Linked DNA regions of Homo sapiens: region 1 is linked to region 2. A link means that fine-mapping ties the variant in region 2 to the expression of a gene that starts in the linked region. Tissue or cell type: fibroblasts. Region 2 holds a variant in brackets; the other region holds the start of a gene. All regions are shown on one strand. Distances are from middle to middle.

Region 1 (8,182 bases), 25 kb before region 2:
ACATTTTTTCCTCAGACTAGGGGGTAGGAATGGGTTTCAGGATGAACTGTTACACCTCAGATCATCAGGCATTAGATTCTCATAAGGTGCATGCAACCTAGATCCCTCACATGTGCAGTTCACAGTAGGGTTCTCGCTCCTATCAGAATCTAATCCCACCACTGATCTGACAGGAGGCAGAGCTCAGGCGGGAATGCTGCAGTGCAGCCTGGTTCCCAAAAGGCCACACTGACTGGTACCAGTCCGTGACTTGGGGGGGCTGGGGACCCCTGTTGTAGATTTTATGGGCTTGGACAAATGTATCATGACATACAGCCAGCATTACAGTATCATACAGAATAGTTTCACTTCCCTAAAAATTCTCTGTGCTCCACCTATTCATCCTTCCCTTTCTCCTAACTCCTGGCGACCACTAATTTTATTACTGTCTTATATAGTTTTGCCTTTTTTAGAATGTCATTTTGTCATTTAGTTGGATTCATATAGCTCGTGTCCTTTTCAGATTTTTTTTGTTTTTTTTTTTTGTTGTTGTTGTTGTTGTTGTTTTCTAGACAGTCTTACTCTGTCGCTCAGGCTGGAGTGCAATAGCATGATCCCGACGCACCCCAACCTCCACCTCCCAGGTTCAAGCAATTCTCCCGCCTCAGCCTCCCGCGTAGCTGGGATTACAGGTGTGTGCCACCATGCCTGGCTAATTTTTTGTATTTTTGGTAGAGATGGGGTTTCACGGTGTTGGCCAGGCTGGTCTCGAACTCCTGACCTCAAGTGATCCACCTGCCTCAGCCTCACAAAATGCTGTGATTACAGGCCTGAGTCACCATGCCTGGCCCAGATTGGTTTCTTTCACTTAGTAATATGCGTTTAAGGCTGGGCATGGTGGCTTACGCCTGTAATCCCAGCACTTCGGGAGGCCGAGGTGGGCAGATCACCTTATCTATTTAGATCTCAGAATAAATAAATACATAAAATAAAAAATATTTATTTATGTTTCCTCCATGTCTTTTCATGGCTTGCTAAGATCATTTCTTTTTGGCACCAAATAATATTCCATTGTTTGGATACAGCACAGTTTATTCAGCTACTGAAGGACATCTTGGTCTTTTTTTTTTTGAGACGGAGTCTCACTCTGTCCCCCAGGTTGGGGTGCAGTGGCATGATCTTGGCTCACCACAACCTCTGCCTCCTGGGTTCAAGCAATTTTCTGCCTCCGCCTCCTGAGTAGCTGGGATTACAGGCGCCCACCATCACGCCTGGCTAATTTTTGTATTTTTAGTAGAGATGGGGGTTTCACCATCTTGGCCAGGCTGGTCTTGAACTCCTGACATCGTGATCTGCCCACCTCGGGCTCCCAAAGTGCTGGAATTACAGGCGTGAGCTACCATACCCGGCCCGTCCTTAAGTTTTGGCAATTATGAATAATGCAGCTATAAACATACTTGTGCAGGTTTTTGTGTGAACATAGTTTTCAACTCCTTTAGGTAAATATCAAGGAGTGTAATTGCTGAATTGTATGGTAATAATATATTTCTTTTTTTTTTTTTGAGACAGAGTTTCCATCTTGTTGCCCAAGCTAGAGTGCAATGGTGCGATCTCAGCTCACTGCAACCTCCGCCTCCTGAGTTCAAGCGATTCTCCTGCCTCAGCCTCCCAAGTAGCTGGGATTACAGGCGCGTGCCACCACGTCTGGGTAATTTTTTGTATTTTTAGTAGAGACGGGGTTTCACCATGTTGGCCAGGCTGGTCTCAAACTCCTGACCTCATGATCCGCCCACCTCGGCCTCCCAAAGTGCTGGGATTACAGGCGTGAGCCACTGCGCCCGGCCGGTAATAGTATATTTCATTGTGTAAAAAACAAAACAAAAAAACAAATTGGGCAGGGCATGGTGGCTCATGCCTATAATCCCAGTACTTTGGGAGGCCTAGGCAGGCAAATCACTTGAGGTCAGGAGTTCAAGGCCAACAGGCAAAAACCCCGTCAAAAAAATTAGTCTGGCATGATGTCAAGCACTCGTAGGCCCAGCTACTCGGGAGGCTGATGCAGGAGAATCGCTTGAACCCTGCAACAGAGTGAGACTCTCTCTCAAACAAAATAAAACAAAACGGAAAAACTATTAGAGGCTGGGAGCGGTGGCTCACGCCTGTAATCTCAACACAGAGGCGGAGGCGGGCGGATCACGAAGTCAAGAGTTCGAGACCAGCCTGGCCAACATAGTGAAACCCCGTACTCTACTAAAAATACAAAAAATAAGCCGGGCATGGTGGCGTGCGCCAGTAATCCCAGCTACTCGGGAGGCTGAGGCAGGAGAATCGCTTGAACCCGGGTGGCGGAGGTTGCGGTGAGCAGCGATCGCGCCATTGCACTCCAGCCTGGGCGACAGAGCAAGACTCCGTCTCAAAAAACAAACAAACAAACAAAAAGCAAAAAAACTATTAGAGCCTGGGCAACATAGTGAAATCTTGTCTCTACCCCCCACCCCCAAAAAAATTAGCCTGGGTGCGGTGGGATGCACCTGTAGTCCCAGCTACTTGGGATACTGAAGTGGGAGGATTGCTTGAGCCTGGGAGGTCGAGGCTGCAGTGAACTGTGTTCACGCCACCGCACTCCAGCCTGTGCGACAGAGCGAGACTCTGTCAAAACCAAACCAAACCAAAACAAAAAAAACCTATGATCCGGTTTCTTGAAGCAGATCCTATGGCAAGCCATCAAGCCAGAGCGGTAAGAAGTAGGAAGATGGTGCTTTTAGATCCACTACATTCCCAGGATCAAATGTAGAACAATATTTAGTCCCTAAAGTGATTCTCTTTCCATTATTGTCAACTGCGTGGTCGGTGCAACGTGAAAGGGCCACAACTATGTGAAGGAAACACTTAGAATATAACACCAAAGGAGGCAATCGCTGCCTTAGACTTCCTAAAGATCTAAAGAACTCTTAGATGCTTGGTGAAATCGCTCTCTGCCGCTGGTGCGACTCAGGCGCGGTCGCGAGGAAGGTCCAGGGTGAACGCGCGTAGGCTGGGAGTCCGCGTTGGGGCGCTCCCTGGCTTGCAGGCCGCTCCGAGTGGGTGGGCCGGGGGCGGGGCCGGCGGCAGGGAGCGGACTCCGCCCCCGGGGCGGGTCCAGTCGGGCCGCGGCGCGTCGCTGCGCCGCACGTGTGCGAGCCCGGCCGCCGGTGAGTCGGCTGGAGCGCATCTGGTCCTCCGCGCGGAAAGCGCTGCTTTTGCCTGGCCGCCCTAGCCGCTGGCTCATCCAAGTGGCCTTCGCCGCTCTCTTGCGTCCCAACCAGAGCGCTGGCCACCTCGCCGCCCAGCTCACGCCGCGCCCGCGCTCCCAGGCTCCGGGTAAGTGCGCGGCCTCCCCGCGGCCGCCGGGGCTCCTCGGCCTGGCCCTGGCCCCAGCCCCAGCCCCAGGGCCCCGCCCCAAGAGGCAGTGCGGACTGGGAAGGCGGACTGGGAAGGCGGCCCCGCAGTGGTCAGAGCCCGCGGCGCCTCCATTATGGATCGTGCCAGCGGGAGCACGGTTGGAACCCAGTGGGTCCTGCGCTTCGGCGGTGCAGGCGCCGCTCTCCGCTCCCCGCTCCCCGCTCCGCTCTGCCCGGCCAGTCGTCCGGAGGCGCCGCGCCCGAGCGCTCCCCTCCTCCCCGCGCGGCGCTGTCCCCCGGGGGCCCCCTTCCCACTCCTCCCTTTCTTTGCCCCGGACGCTCCCTAAACTCTTGTCCCTCCGTCAGAGGAACACTGGCCCTGAAGCCCTTCACGGTGCCACTGCTTCGCCGCGCCTGCCTTCTGTGGGTCCAGCCCACGTGTTCCACCCCTGTGTCCTGCGTCGCCGCTCACTGGGAGCCTACTAGGCGCCACGCGGGCTCTGGGGACTGCTTGCTTTGTATGCATTTCCCAGAGTAGGAGTGGACGGGCTGCAGACTCAGAGTGCTTTCTCCAGCCCTCAAGCTGGGTGAATGCTTAACGAGTGGATGGAGGTGCTGCTGTGCAAGCTGAAATTCGAGTCCTCCTCGTCAGCCCTGCGCAGAGGTGTTTAGAAGCACACCTTCGTTGCCTGCCGAGTAGGGTTGGCAAAGAGTTTAGTTTTTAAAATATTTGGTCCCGTCAGACTACTTTTTTTTTCCATTCCAAAAATAAAGGGTTACTAAGGTTCCCTCCCCCCCATCCCCAAGCCTCTAATCATCTATGAAATGACTATGCCCCATTGGCCTGGGGGAGCCTCGACTATTGAGGGATCTGTCGAAAATCAGACTGTACAACACTATTGAAAAGGGGTTGGTTAGGCAATTGTTAGGTTCAAACATTAGGAAAGTAGCCAACAGTACGTACTTAACAACTCCTTGTGAACATGTTTTTGGTTTTTTTATTTTTATTTTTTTAATTTTTTTGAGACAGAATTTTGCTCTTGTTGCCCAGGCTGGAGTGCAGTTGCGTGATCATCGCTCACTGCAGCCTTGAACTCCTGGGCTCAAGCAATCCTCTCACCTCAGCCTCCCAAGTAGCTGGGACTATAGGCATGTGCCACCACACAGGGTCTCGCTGTGTTGCCCAGCCTGGCCTCAAACTCCTGACCTTAAGCAATCCTCCTGCTTTGACCTCCCAAAGTGCTGGAATTACAGGCTTGAGCAACCACACTCGGCCTTGAACATATCTTTGTTTTTTGATTTATTTTTTTTAGACGGAGTCTCACTCCATCACCCAGGCTGGAGTGCAATGGCACGATCTTGGCTCACTGCAACCTCAGCCTCCTGGGTTCAAGCGATTCTCCTGCCTCAGCCTCCGGAGTAGCTGGGATTACATGTGCACGCCACCATGCCCAGCTAATTTTTGTATTTTTATTTATTTATTTATTTATTTATTTATTTATTTATTTATTTTGAGACAGTCTCGCTCTGTCGCCCACATGTATTGCAGAGGCAGCACCTCCATCCACTCGTTAAGCATTCACCCAGCTTGAGGGCTGGAGATGTATTGCAGTGGCGCGATCTCGGCTCACTGCAGGCTCCGCCTCCCGGGTTCACGCCATTCTCCTGCCTCAGCCTCCCGAGTAGCTGGGACTACAGGCGCCCGCCACCACGCCCGGCTAATTTTTTATATTTTTAGTAGAGGCGGGGTTTCACTGTGTTAGCCAGGATGGTCTCGATTTCCTGACCTCATGATCTGCCCGCCTCTGCCTCCCAAAGTGCTGGGATTACAGGCGTGAGCCACCGCGCCCCGCCTAATTTTTGTATTTTTAGTAGAGACGGGGTTTCACCATGTTGGCCAGGCTGGTCTTGAACTTCAGACTTCAGGTGATCCACCCGCCTCAGCCTTCCGAAGTGCTGGGATTACAGGCGTGTGCCATCACACCCGGCCTTGAACGTGTCTTTTGATAGAGGCAGGGGCATGCATGTACTGTATTAATGAAGCAGCGTTTTTCCTTACCTAGGAGAGAGAGAGAACAATCCAGCTGGTCATACTGTCGACTAAGTTTGCTCCGGTTTCAGGTCCTTTACACGTGCTGTTCGGGCTGCCTGGAGCTCTCCTCACACACATCTTTTCCTGTCTGGTTCTTCCTTGTCTTTGCTCAGAAGTCTCCTCCTTAGACGAGGCATCACTGAAGAACACCCCTCTTACTCTCAGCCCCTTACCCTGTTTTAATTCTTTGGAGCTCGCATGTCCTGAGATTTATTTTGTTCTCAGATATATTCTCAAATACATTGTAAGCTACATGAGGACAGGAAATGGTATTACCCTTTTCTTCCAGTACCTACAACAATGCCAGACACATAGGACACTTGCTCAGTAAATATTTGCAGAATGAATGACCCTCATAGACTTAATGATTTTGCATATTAGAATGCAGTGTGTCTGCCGGGCCTGGTGACATCATGCCTGTAATCCCAGCACTCTGGGAGGCCGAGGCAGGCAGCTCGTTTGAGGTCAGGTCAGTAGTTTGAGACCATCCTGGCCAACATGGCGAAACCCCCTCTCTACTAAAAATACAAAAATTAGCTGGATGTGGTAATTTTAGCCCATGCCTGTAATCCCAGCTACTCGGGAGGCTGAGGTAGGAGAATCGCCGGAACGCTGGAAGTGGAGATTGCGGTGAGCCGAGACTGCACCACTGCACTCCAGCCTGGGCAACAGAGGAAAACTCCATCTCCAAAAAAAAAAAAATTAGTGTGTTCTCTGTGCTCTGGCCCTAAAGAAAATGCTCACTATTGTGAGAGCTATAGAGATTACTGATAATTTGCAGGGGATGGAGGAAAGATGTATTTACAAAGTGAAAGTTGTGGATAGTTTTGAAATATAATATGATAGAATTAAGACTAATGGCTGTTTTTGTAGGCTGGGCGCGGTGGCTCAGGCCTGTAATCCCAGCCCTTTGGGAGACCGAGGCGGGCGAATCATGAGGTCAGGAGTTCGAGACAATCTTGGATAACACGGTGAAAGCCCATCTCTATTAAAAATACAAAAAATTAGCCTGGTGTTGTGGCGGGCGCCTGTAATCCCAGCTACTCAGGAGGCTGAGGCAGGAGAATCTCGTGTACCCGGGAGGCAGAGGTTGCAGTGAGCCGAGATTGCGCCACTGCACTCCAGCCTGGGCAATAGAGTGAGACTCCGTCTCAAAAAATATACAAAATAAAATAAAAAATAATTCAAAAAAAGACTAATGGCTGTTTTTCTGATGTTTATTTTGGAGGAATTAATTAATAAGGGACTGTTTGGCCTGGGCGGTGGTGCACACCTGTAATCCCAGTTGAGGCAGGGCAGATCACTTGAGCTCAGGAGTTTGAGACTAGTGGGCAACATGGCAAAACCCTGTCTCTACAAAAAATACAAAAATTAACTGGGCATGGTGGCACATGCCTGTAGTCCCAGTTACTCGGGTGGCTGAAGTGGGAGGATCGCTTGAGCTGGGAGGTCGAGGCTGCATTGAACTGAGATCACGCCACTGCACTCCAGCCTGGGTGACAGAGTGAGACACTGTCTCAAAAAATAAATAAATAAACAAACAAGAGACTGTTGTTAGTGTTATATTAAAATTTTGAAAATGCTAAACTTAATTTTTGTTATAGGTGTAAAGGATTTTATTTTTTTTTTGAGACAGGGTCTTTCTGTCACCCAGGCTGAAGTGTAGTGGCACCATCACGGCTTACTGCAGCCTCAACGTCCTGGGCGCAGTGGATCTTCCCACCTCAGCCTCACAAGTAGCTGGGACTACAGGTGCATGCCACCTTGCCCGGCTTATTTTTATTTATTTTTTGAGACAGAGTCTCCCTCTGTCACCCAGGCTGGAGTGCAGTGGCGCAATCTCGGCTCACTGCGACTTCTGTCTCCCCAGTTCAAGCGATTCTCCTGTCTCAGCCTCCTGAGTAGCTGGGATTACAGGGCCACACCACCATGCATGGCTAATTTTTGGATTTTTAGTAGAAATGGGGTTTCGCCATGCTGGCCAGGCTGATTTCGAACTTTTGACCTTGTGATCTGCCCACCTCGGACTCCGAAAGTGCTGGGATTACAGGCATGAGACACCACACCCAGCTGCCTGGCTAATTTTTTAATTTTTTGCAGAGACATGGTCCCACTATGTTGTCCATGCTGGTCTCAAACTCCTGGTCTCAAGCCATCTACCTGCCTGCATTTTTTCAGAGATGAAGTCTCCCTCTGTTGCCCAGACTGGAGTGCAGTGGTGTGATCATAACTTACTGCAGCCTTAAACTGGTCTCACACAATCCTCCTGCCTCAGCCGCCCTGTTAGCTGGGACTACATGCACACATGCCCAGCTAAGAGTACTTCTTAAAGCTTAGTTGGTGAATCTAGTATTTTAATGAAAAGGGTTTTAAAATACTGTTAAAATTATAATATTTCTATTCTCAGTTGTCTCATTTGGAGTGCAGAGGAAACAAAAAACATTATTTTAGCATTCCCTCCAAAGAAATGTGAAGGATTGGCCAGGCGTGGTGGCTCATGCCTGTGATCCCAGCACTTTGGGAGGCCGAGGCAGGCAGATCACCTGAGGTCAGGAGTTCAAGACCAGCCTGGCCAACATGGTGAAAACCCGTCTCTACTAAAAATACAAAAATTAGCCAGGCGTGTTGGCGCATGCCTGTATGTACTCTCAGCTACTTGGGAGGCTGAGGCGGGAGGATCACTTGAACCCAGGAGGTGGAGGTTGCAGTGAGCAGAGATCACACCACTGTA
Region 2 (8,182 bases):
TACAGCCTTTCTACCCATCCCCTTCATTAAACACAGCGCCAGGTCTCTCATGTTGTGTTTTTATCCACATTTTCTCTGCTTATGCGACACCCGCCTTTCTTTTTTTTGTTGTTGTTGTTACGAAGTTTCCTTAAGATTTTACAAGTGAAGTACTGAGCTGTGCGATGTGAACCACCCTTCCCCATTTTCGTTTGGACACCTTCAGTAAGAAAGGAATTTCTCACTTTAAAAAGAAGCAAGAAGGAAGTCAGATTGGATCAACTCCCTCTTGTATAGAGAACCACACTTCTTGGGCTTGTGGTGTTGTGACATTTCTTCAAAGATGGACTAAATCTCTGCCATCTCTCCCACCTCCTCATGGAAGGCCACCCCTGGCACAGATGGGCACTTAGGAGCCTGCATTCATTTTTATAGACCCCACTCTCCCCAAGCTGAGAGTGGCCTAAAGTGAACACCCCTAGGAAAGGAGGAAGAGCTGGTATCCAAAGATTATTGTTCATGGCCCTCTACCAGCGACAGCTTGTCCTCCTGAGCCATCTTGCCTAGCATTTGAATGATTTAGCTTTTAAAGTATCATTACAAAGCTTTGTAATTTACAGTTTTTTTTTAGCTGTATTACTACCAGATCCTGATAGAAATTGTTATTATGCATTATCTAGCAGATTCACAATATTCTTAACCTGAACTTTTCTCAGATAGAACTGTGCATCCTAAAACATAGATGTGGTGGATTCTAAATCATTGTTCCCAAACACCACAAATTACCAACTATTTAAACTCAGACATTATTTTATGTGTTAAGCCAGTCTGATAGGGCACATTGCTTTACCTACCAAAATGTATATGTGATTTTTTTTTAAAATACCATCTAAACTATCATAACATTACTGATAAATTAATTTATATTTTGAGACAGTATACATTCCAAATGCTTCTAAGAACATAGTTTTTAAAGACTTATGTAAAAAAAAGAAAATTCTGCCATGTGATAGGTACAGGTTCTCTATACTTTCTGAAATGAATGGTCCCCAGGAGGGATCCCTGTATGTAGGAATCCATAGAGACTCAGGAGGAAGAGCTAGACAGGTACAAAGAAGCTCTCTGGGAAAGACTGGTGTTATAGAATCCACAGGAATAGGGAATCCCAATAATCAGAGTGATCAATGGACTACCATTGCTTCCATTCCTGTGGCAATGGAAAATGCTACAGATAGGTCCAGCAAGATAATTACTCTGAAACCTGTCTATCAGTTTAGCAACATGGAAGTTGTTGGTGTCTTTTCACCGGAGCATTCTAGTGGAATGATGAGGTTGGAAACCAGTTTACATAGTAGGTTGAGATGGAAGGTAGTATATACAGACTGCTTTTTCAAATAACCTGCAAAGAGGAGAAGAAGCGAACATAATTAAGGAGAGGGGAACATAGGTTAGGCTTTTAAGATGGAAGAGCTGTGAGTTATTTATATATGCAAGGGAGACAATGGAGGGCCAGGCGCAGTGGCTCACGCCTGTAATCCCAGCACTTTGAGAGGCCGAGGCGGGCAGATCACTTGAGGCCTGGAGTTCCAGACCTGCCTGGCCAACATGGCAAAACCTCATCTCTATAAAAAGAAAAATATATATTTTCAAAAAGGAAAGAGACAATGGAGAGAGAAGGTGAAAATTCAGGGAGGCAAATAACAAAATAAAGATAATGGATGGAGTAGGATCCCTGAAAAAGCTGAAGGTTGGTGTGCAGGGGTGTGATGGTGGGAATGACCTTGAATAAGAAGGAAGGAATGTTCCGCATGCTACCCCATCTTTTCATCTTTCTCAGCTAGAAACATTTTTCCTTCTTTATTCATGGAGATGTCTGTGCTCAATAAATCAAACTTCCTGAACTTGGTTTCCCTTTTATCTGGTTTCCATTTCTGCTAGACTGGGACTGCCTTGTTAGGCCCTCAGAAGCTGGATGCAGCCTTCTTCAAATAGGAACCATATTACCCAGCCTGGGAATTCTGTGCATTTGCAGTATAAATCAGTGTCTCAAAAATGTCTGCAAGTTATTTTAAATTCATTCAAATTGTAAAGCTAAGTATATGCTGCTTAGCATTCTTAGGGGGTGGAGTTTTATAAAGTCACACAAATTGCCCAAAATAAATGGAGACTCATTGATTTTCTGTTATTTAAAATATTCCCAGTTAATCAATGCATATGCTTACTATTTTGTATATTGAGTGTACTTAGAAAAAGAATGCATACTTGTATCTGTTGTTTGCAAAGGAGATAATTGTATGCATGCTCAGTGCTTGGATTTGCTAAATAGAAGATGCATGCTTGTGAGCCAAAACTCATACTCTGTTGTCATGGTTTCTCTTAAGGTATAGCAGCATTTAGTTTTTGAGTCTTGTGGCTTCATTTATTTCTTGTCATTATACTTAATTATGAATACTCCAAAGGGGTAGTTGAGAAAAATGTAGCTACACTTCATCAACTTTTATCACAAGTGTTTTTAAAGTTTTTATTATGGACATTTTCAAACTTGCAGTCAAATAGAGGAAATAGTATATGGAACCTATGTACCCATAAACCATCTTTAAGATTATCAACATTCTGTTGTTTTATTGATTTATCCTTCCTCCTTTTTTTTCTTGCTGGAGCATTTTAAAGGAAATTCTACATAGCATGGCTTTTCACTCATAAATATTTCAGTATCTATTTGCCAGATGAGGACTGAAACCCCAAACTATTATCACATCCAAAAACATCAACAATAATTTCTTCCTATCACATACCTATTGCATATTTGGTTTTGCTGTATCTCAAAAATGTCTTTTTTATATGCAGATGGCTTGTTCAAAGAATGATAAAAACAAGGTCAGAACATTGCACTCATTGATAAGCCTCTTAAGTCGTCTCTTAAATCTTTTTTAATCTATAAAGAACTTAGCTGTTTTCTATAATATTTAACATTTTTCAAATTTAAAAGTCTTTATAATTCAATGCAAGAAATTCATGAAACGCAGAAAAAGCAAAGCAATAGTTACTTGTCTCACTATCAAAAAAAAGATAATCACAAATAGCATTTTGGTACATGTCCTCCCATATTTAAGTAAACAGATCTCTTTTTGGGGAAGCATTTACTATCCTTAAACCTTTTGCTTCATCTCATGGGTACAGACAGTGCAGCTTTGAGCGTGAACTAACATGCCCATTGTGAAGGGATTGAGACAAGGAGGCTGCACCTGTAGAAGAGTTTTCTACTTGTTCACTGTTTGCCTCTAAAACATTCCATTGTTAATGTCTAAATGGCTGTTAACCCACCGCATAACTACCGGGTGCTGTAGAAGTCCTCAGTGTAAACTTAACCATGCGATCATTTGCATGTTCACCTCTAAAGCACTTTAATATTATAAATTAAACATTGCTCTTTTGTGCTCTTTATGCTGTGCATTTGGACAGAGGTCAGAACTGCAGCAGGTAAGAGCATTTGGCATTTCATGTAGATAAAGTGAAATGCCAAAGATTTTGTCACAAGTGCTAAGTATAGACAACTTTGCTTAACTGATAGTGAGCTGGAAGGAAAACCGAAAATGATATTCCTGCTCAACAGTTTTCTGAAGAACTTGTGAGGAATTCACACCAAGGACTAAAGAAATACTT[GTAATACTTT/T]TCTGTCCAAGACAGAAAAAACTCACATATTTATCAAGAAGGAAGGGTGATTCACTAAGCATACATGCTATGGCAGTTTTCTGAAATGGTTTATGGAGTCTTTTGTTCTTTTCATTGTAACTTATCACTAACTTACCAAACAGTGCTTTTGCCTTGACAAAGCCAGGTATCCAAGTACCAGCTTCGGTACCAGCAGTATCTTAAGCCTCTGAAGATAAGGGATTCATGAGTTCATGAAAAAGGATTATTTTTAAAAGAAGAGGACTCTTTCTAGGAATTGTTGTATGAAACATTTTTTCAGTTTTTCTTTCATGGAGTTACAGTAATCAAATGAACTAGATGTGTTGTTTAAGTAACAACTGCAGCTCTGTGCCACACAGGACTCATGAATGTTATTGTACAGCGTCTATAAAGTGCAGTTTAGGCTTACATATTTTTCCCAAAGTACTTAAAAAAAAACATTTTGAGCAGCTTAAATCTAAAGCATATATATGTATGTGTCTCTCCCTCTCTCTCTCTCTCTCTCTCTCTCTCTATATATATATATATATATATATATATATATGTGTGTGTGTGTAGATATGCATACTTTTTTTTTTTTTTGAGACGGAGTCTCGCTCTTGTTGCCCAGGCTGGAATGCAATGGCACGATCTTGGCTCGGTAACCTCCACCTCCTGGGTTCAAGCAATTCTCTTGCCTCAGCCTCCCAAGTAGCTGGAATTACAGGCACTCGCCACAATGCCCAGCTAATTTTTGTATTTTTAGTAGAGACGGGGTTTCACCATGTTGGCCAGGCTTGTCTCAAACTCCTGACCTCAGGTGATCCGCCCATCTCAGCCTCCCAAAGTGCTGGGATTACAGTGCATGGGATTACACTCGGCCTAAATCTTACATTGTTTAACACAGGATTGAACAACTGAAGTAACACTAGCTGCTCAGAAGTTAACATTTAACCTGGCTTAATTTTTTTATGTTCTTTTTTTTAATTAAAAATGTTTTTCTTTTATTTATTTTTTGAGACAGGGTCTTGCTCTGTCACCCATGCTGGAGTGCAGTAGCATGATCTCGGTTCACTACAACCTCCACCCTACATGTTCATGTGATCCTCCCACCTCAGCCATCTGAGTAGTTGGGACCACAGGCGTGTACCACCATGCCTGGCTATTTTTAGTGGAGACGGGTCTTGCCATGTTGCCCAGGCCAGTCTTGAACTCCTGAGCTCAAGCCATCTTGCCCGCCTTGGCCTCCCAAAGTCCTGAGATTACAGGTGTGAGCCACCGTGCCCAGCCACATTTTAGCTTTTTATTTTTAATATGGATAGATAATGTTAAGTGTCCAATTACAGGAAATGTAATACCTCTAGTCCACACAGCTATAACCACTTAACCTGTATTTCTTTATCAGACTAGAACTGATTTTCCACTCAAAGGTTCTATAGCGAAAAATGAGCTCTTACATCTATAACTTTTATTATGGTATATATAATGTTAATTCTTTTGCTTTCAAGATCCAAGAAAACATTCTTGGCCAAAATCTAGGGGAAGTTACTGCCACTTCGTACTATATAAGGAAAACAAAGACACCATGGATGCTATTAATGTACTCTCCAAATACTTAAGGTGAGTTACTGTTGTTATGCCTATACAAAATCAAAGCAACAGAAACGTATATTCCTTTTTCCATGCTAATGGAAAAAGGAGCAGGAGGAGCACAGATTACAGATAGTAAATGCTCCTCCCAATGATAGTTTTCTTTCTTTCTTTCTTTCTTTTTTTTTTTTTTTTTTTAGACAGTCTCACTCTGTCACTCAGGCTGGAGTGAATGATGGTATGATCAGGCTCACTGCAGCCTTGACTTCCTGGGCTCAGGCATTCCTCCTACCTTAGCCTCCTGAGTAGCTGGGATTACAGGCGTATGCCACAATGCCAGGCTAATTTTATTAGGTTTTAGAGACAGAGTCTCACTATATTGCCCAGGCTGGTCTCGAACTCCTGTGCTCAAGCAGTCCTCACACTTCAGCCTCCCAAAGTACTGGGATTAAGAATTGCCGATCGGCCTGGCGCAGTGGCTCACACCTGTAATTCCAGCACTTTGGGAGGCCGAGGAAGGCAGATCACGAGGTCAAGAGATCGAGACCATCTTGGCCAACATGGTGAAACCCAATCTCTACTAAAAATACAAAAATTAGCTGGGCATGGTGGCATGTGCCTGTAGTGTTAGCTGCTCAGGAGGCTGAGGCAGGAGAATTGCTTGAACCTGGGAAGCAGAGGTTGCGGTAAGCCGAGATTGTGCCACTGCACTCCAGCCTGGCAACAGAGCAAGACTCCATCTCAAAAAAAAAAAAAAAAAAAAAAAAAATCACTGATCATGGATAGGAAGTGCATTGTTTCTTCCAGGCGTGAGCCACTGTGCCAGGCCGTGAGGATAGTTTTCTTAGGCAATGGATGAATTAATTTTTTTGACCCCCACATACGTAGTGCCAATAATTCAAGATGAAAATTCCATAAGTAAATGATTCGCATGCAGCTGAGAGTTAACAATCTGGTTGAAAATAAAAATTAACTTTCTCTTTTGAAAGCCTATACTTATCCTTTGACGTGGTTGCAGAGGTTGGTTTTGCCAGACTGGGAGCTCTCAATTCCTGGAGACTGACTAAACCTGAGACCGGTCTGATTTTCTAACAGGAATGTAAATATAGCAGAGACTGGATCTCTGGGGATCGGCAAGGTGCCAAAGCTTTTCTTAAAAATGGAAGTGGCTACACACCACAGCAAGTCTGTATGCTGTGGAAATTTGGTTTCCAATATATATTTAACTCATTTTAAATATGGAAACAGTGTATTAATTTGCTAGGACTTCCATAACAAAATACCACAGATCAGGTGGCTTAACAGAAATTACTTTTCATATGCTTCTAGAGGCTAACAGTCCCAAGCTCAAGGTGTCGGCAAGTTTGTTTTTTTTCCGGAAGCCTCTCTCCTTGGCTCGCAGATGGCTGCCTTCTCACTGTGTCTTCATGTGGCATTTTCCCTGTGCACGCACACCCCTGGTATCTGTGTGTGTCCCCATTTCCTCTTCTTAGGAGGATACCAGTCAGATTGGATTAGTGCCCACCCTAAATGGCCTCATTTTAACTGAATCACCTCTTTGAAGGCCCTATCTCCAAATACAGTCACATTCTGAGGTCCTGGGGGGTCAGAGCTTCAACATACTAATTTTGGGGGAGACACAGTTCAGCCCATAATACACAGTACCCAATTAAGTAACATTTATTTTGCTCTATTTATTAACTCCCTGGGAGAGAGTCTGTGCTACTATGCCTGTACCTGAGCCAGAGAGAACAGACGATTCTTGACAGGAATAGGTGGGTGGGGAGGGAGTTCCTCCAAGATCGGGAGTTGAGGATTGCTCAGGATTTAAGAAATCCTTCCTGGCTTTTTCCTTCTCATATGGAACGGTTAAGTTTATAAAATACTTCTTAGTTAACTAGGTTACTTATTATCTTCATATCAAAACTATTCAGATCCCAGTTTTAGCATTTCATTTGGCTTTTTTCATTTTTTAATACAAAGCAATAGCAGCATGGAAAATTCACACAATAACTTTTTAAAAACTGAAGATAAATTTTCATAGTGGTACATTATATCTCTAGAATGCATTTTTCTTTGCTTTCACTGTCTTATGTAATGTAATGAATTGTAGATGATGGATAGGAAGTGCATTGTTGCCTTTTTTGTTGCTGGCTAGCCAAGTCTTTGAACAACATCAGTTATTTACTAATAGCCACAAATGTTTACACTGCTAAGAAAGGAATTATTGACTGGGCGCAGTGGCTCACCCCTGTAATCCTAGCACTTTGGGAGGCCGAGGCGGGTGGATCACCTGAGGTCGAGCATTCAAGACCAGCCTGGCCAACATGGCGAAACCCCATCTCTATTAAAAATACAAAAAATCGGCCGGGCGCGGTGGCTCACGCCTGTAATCCCAGCACTTTGGGAGGCCGAGGCGGGCGGATCACGAGGTCAGGAGATCGAGACCATCCCGGCTAAAAAACGGTGAAACCCCGTCTCTACTAAAAATACAAAAAATTAGCCGGGCGTAGTGGCGGGCGCCTGTAGTCCCAGCTACTTGGGAGGCTGAGGCAGGAGAATGGCGTGAACCCGGGAGGCGGAGCTTGCAGTGAGCCGAGATCCCGCCACTGCACTCCAGCCTGGGCGACAGAGCGAGACTCTGTCTCAAAAAAAAAAAAAAAAAAAAAAATACAAAAAATCAGCCAGATGTGGTGGTGCATGCCTGTAATCCCAGCTACTTGGGAGGCTGAAGCAGGAGAATTGCTTGAACCCAGGAGGCAGAGGTTGCAGTGAGCCAAGATTGTGCCGCTGCACTCCAGCCTGGGTGACAGAGAGAGACTCCGTCTCAAAAAAAAAAGCGAAGAATTATTTGGCCATCATTTACCTTTTTTGTTTTTTTTTAAAGAGAGCAGGTCTTACTACGTCACCCAGGCAGGAGTGTAGTGTGCAGTGGCTGTTC

Evidence for each region. PIP is the estimated chance that this variant, and not a neighbour inherited with it, causes the effect.
Region 1: it holds the start of PUS7, and the variant in region 2 is fine-mapped to the expression of PUS7 in fibroblasts (GTEx, PIP above 0.99).

The regions. Positions count from the first base shown.
Region 1 is chr7:105,517,209-105,525,390 of GRCh38, reverse strand. It overlaps PUS7 (pseudouridine synthase 7), which reads left to right and starts at 3,120. Exons shown (of 16, transcript NM_019042.5): 1 at 3,120-3,339. RefSeq lists enhancers at 1,855-2,355, 3,639-4,293, 4,608-5,225 and silencers at 2,992-3,741, 3,951-4,096.
Region 2 is chr7:105,492,231-105,500,412 of GRCh38, reverse strand. PUS7 (pseudouridine synthase 7) reads left to right here. Exons shown (of 16, transcript NM_019042.5): 6 at 5,160-5,271. Among named protein-coding and RNA genes, the nearest start is that of PUS7, 26 kb to the left of the region's middle. The variant GTAATACTTT/T (reference allele first, on the strand shown) is at 3,643.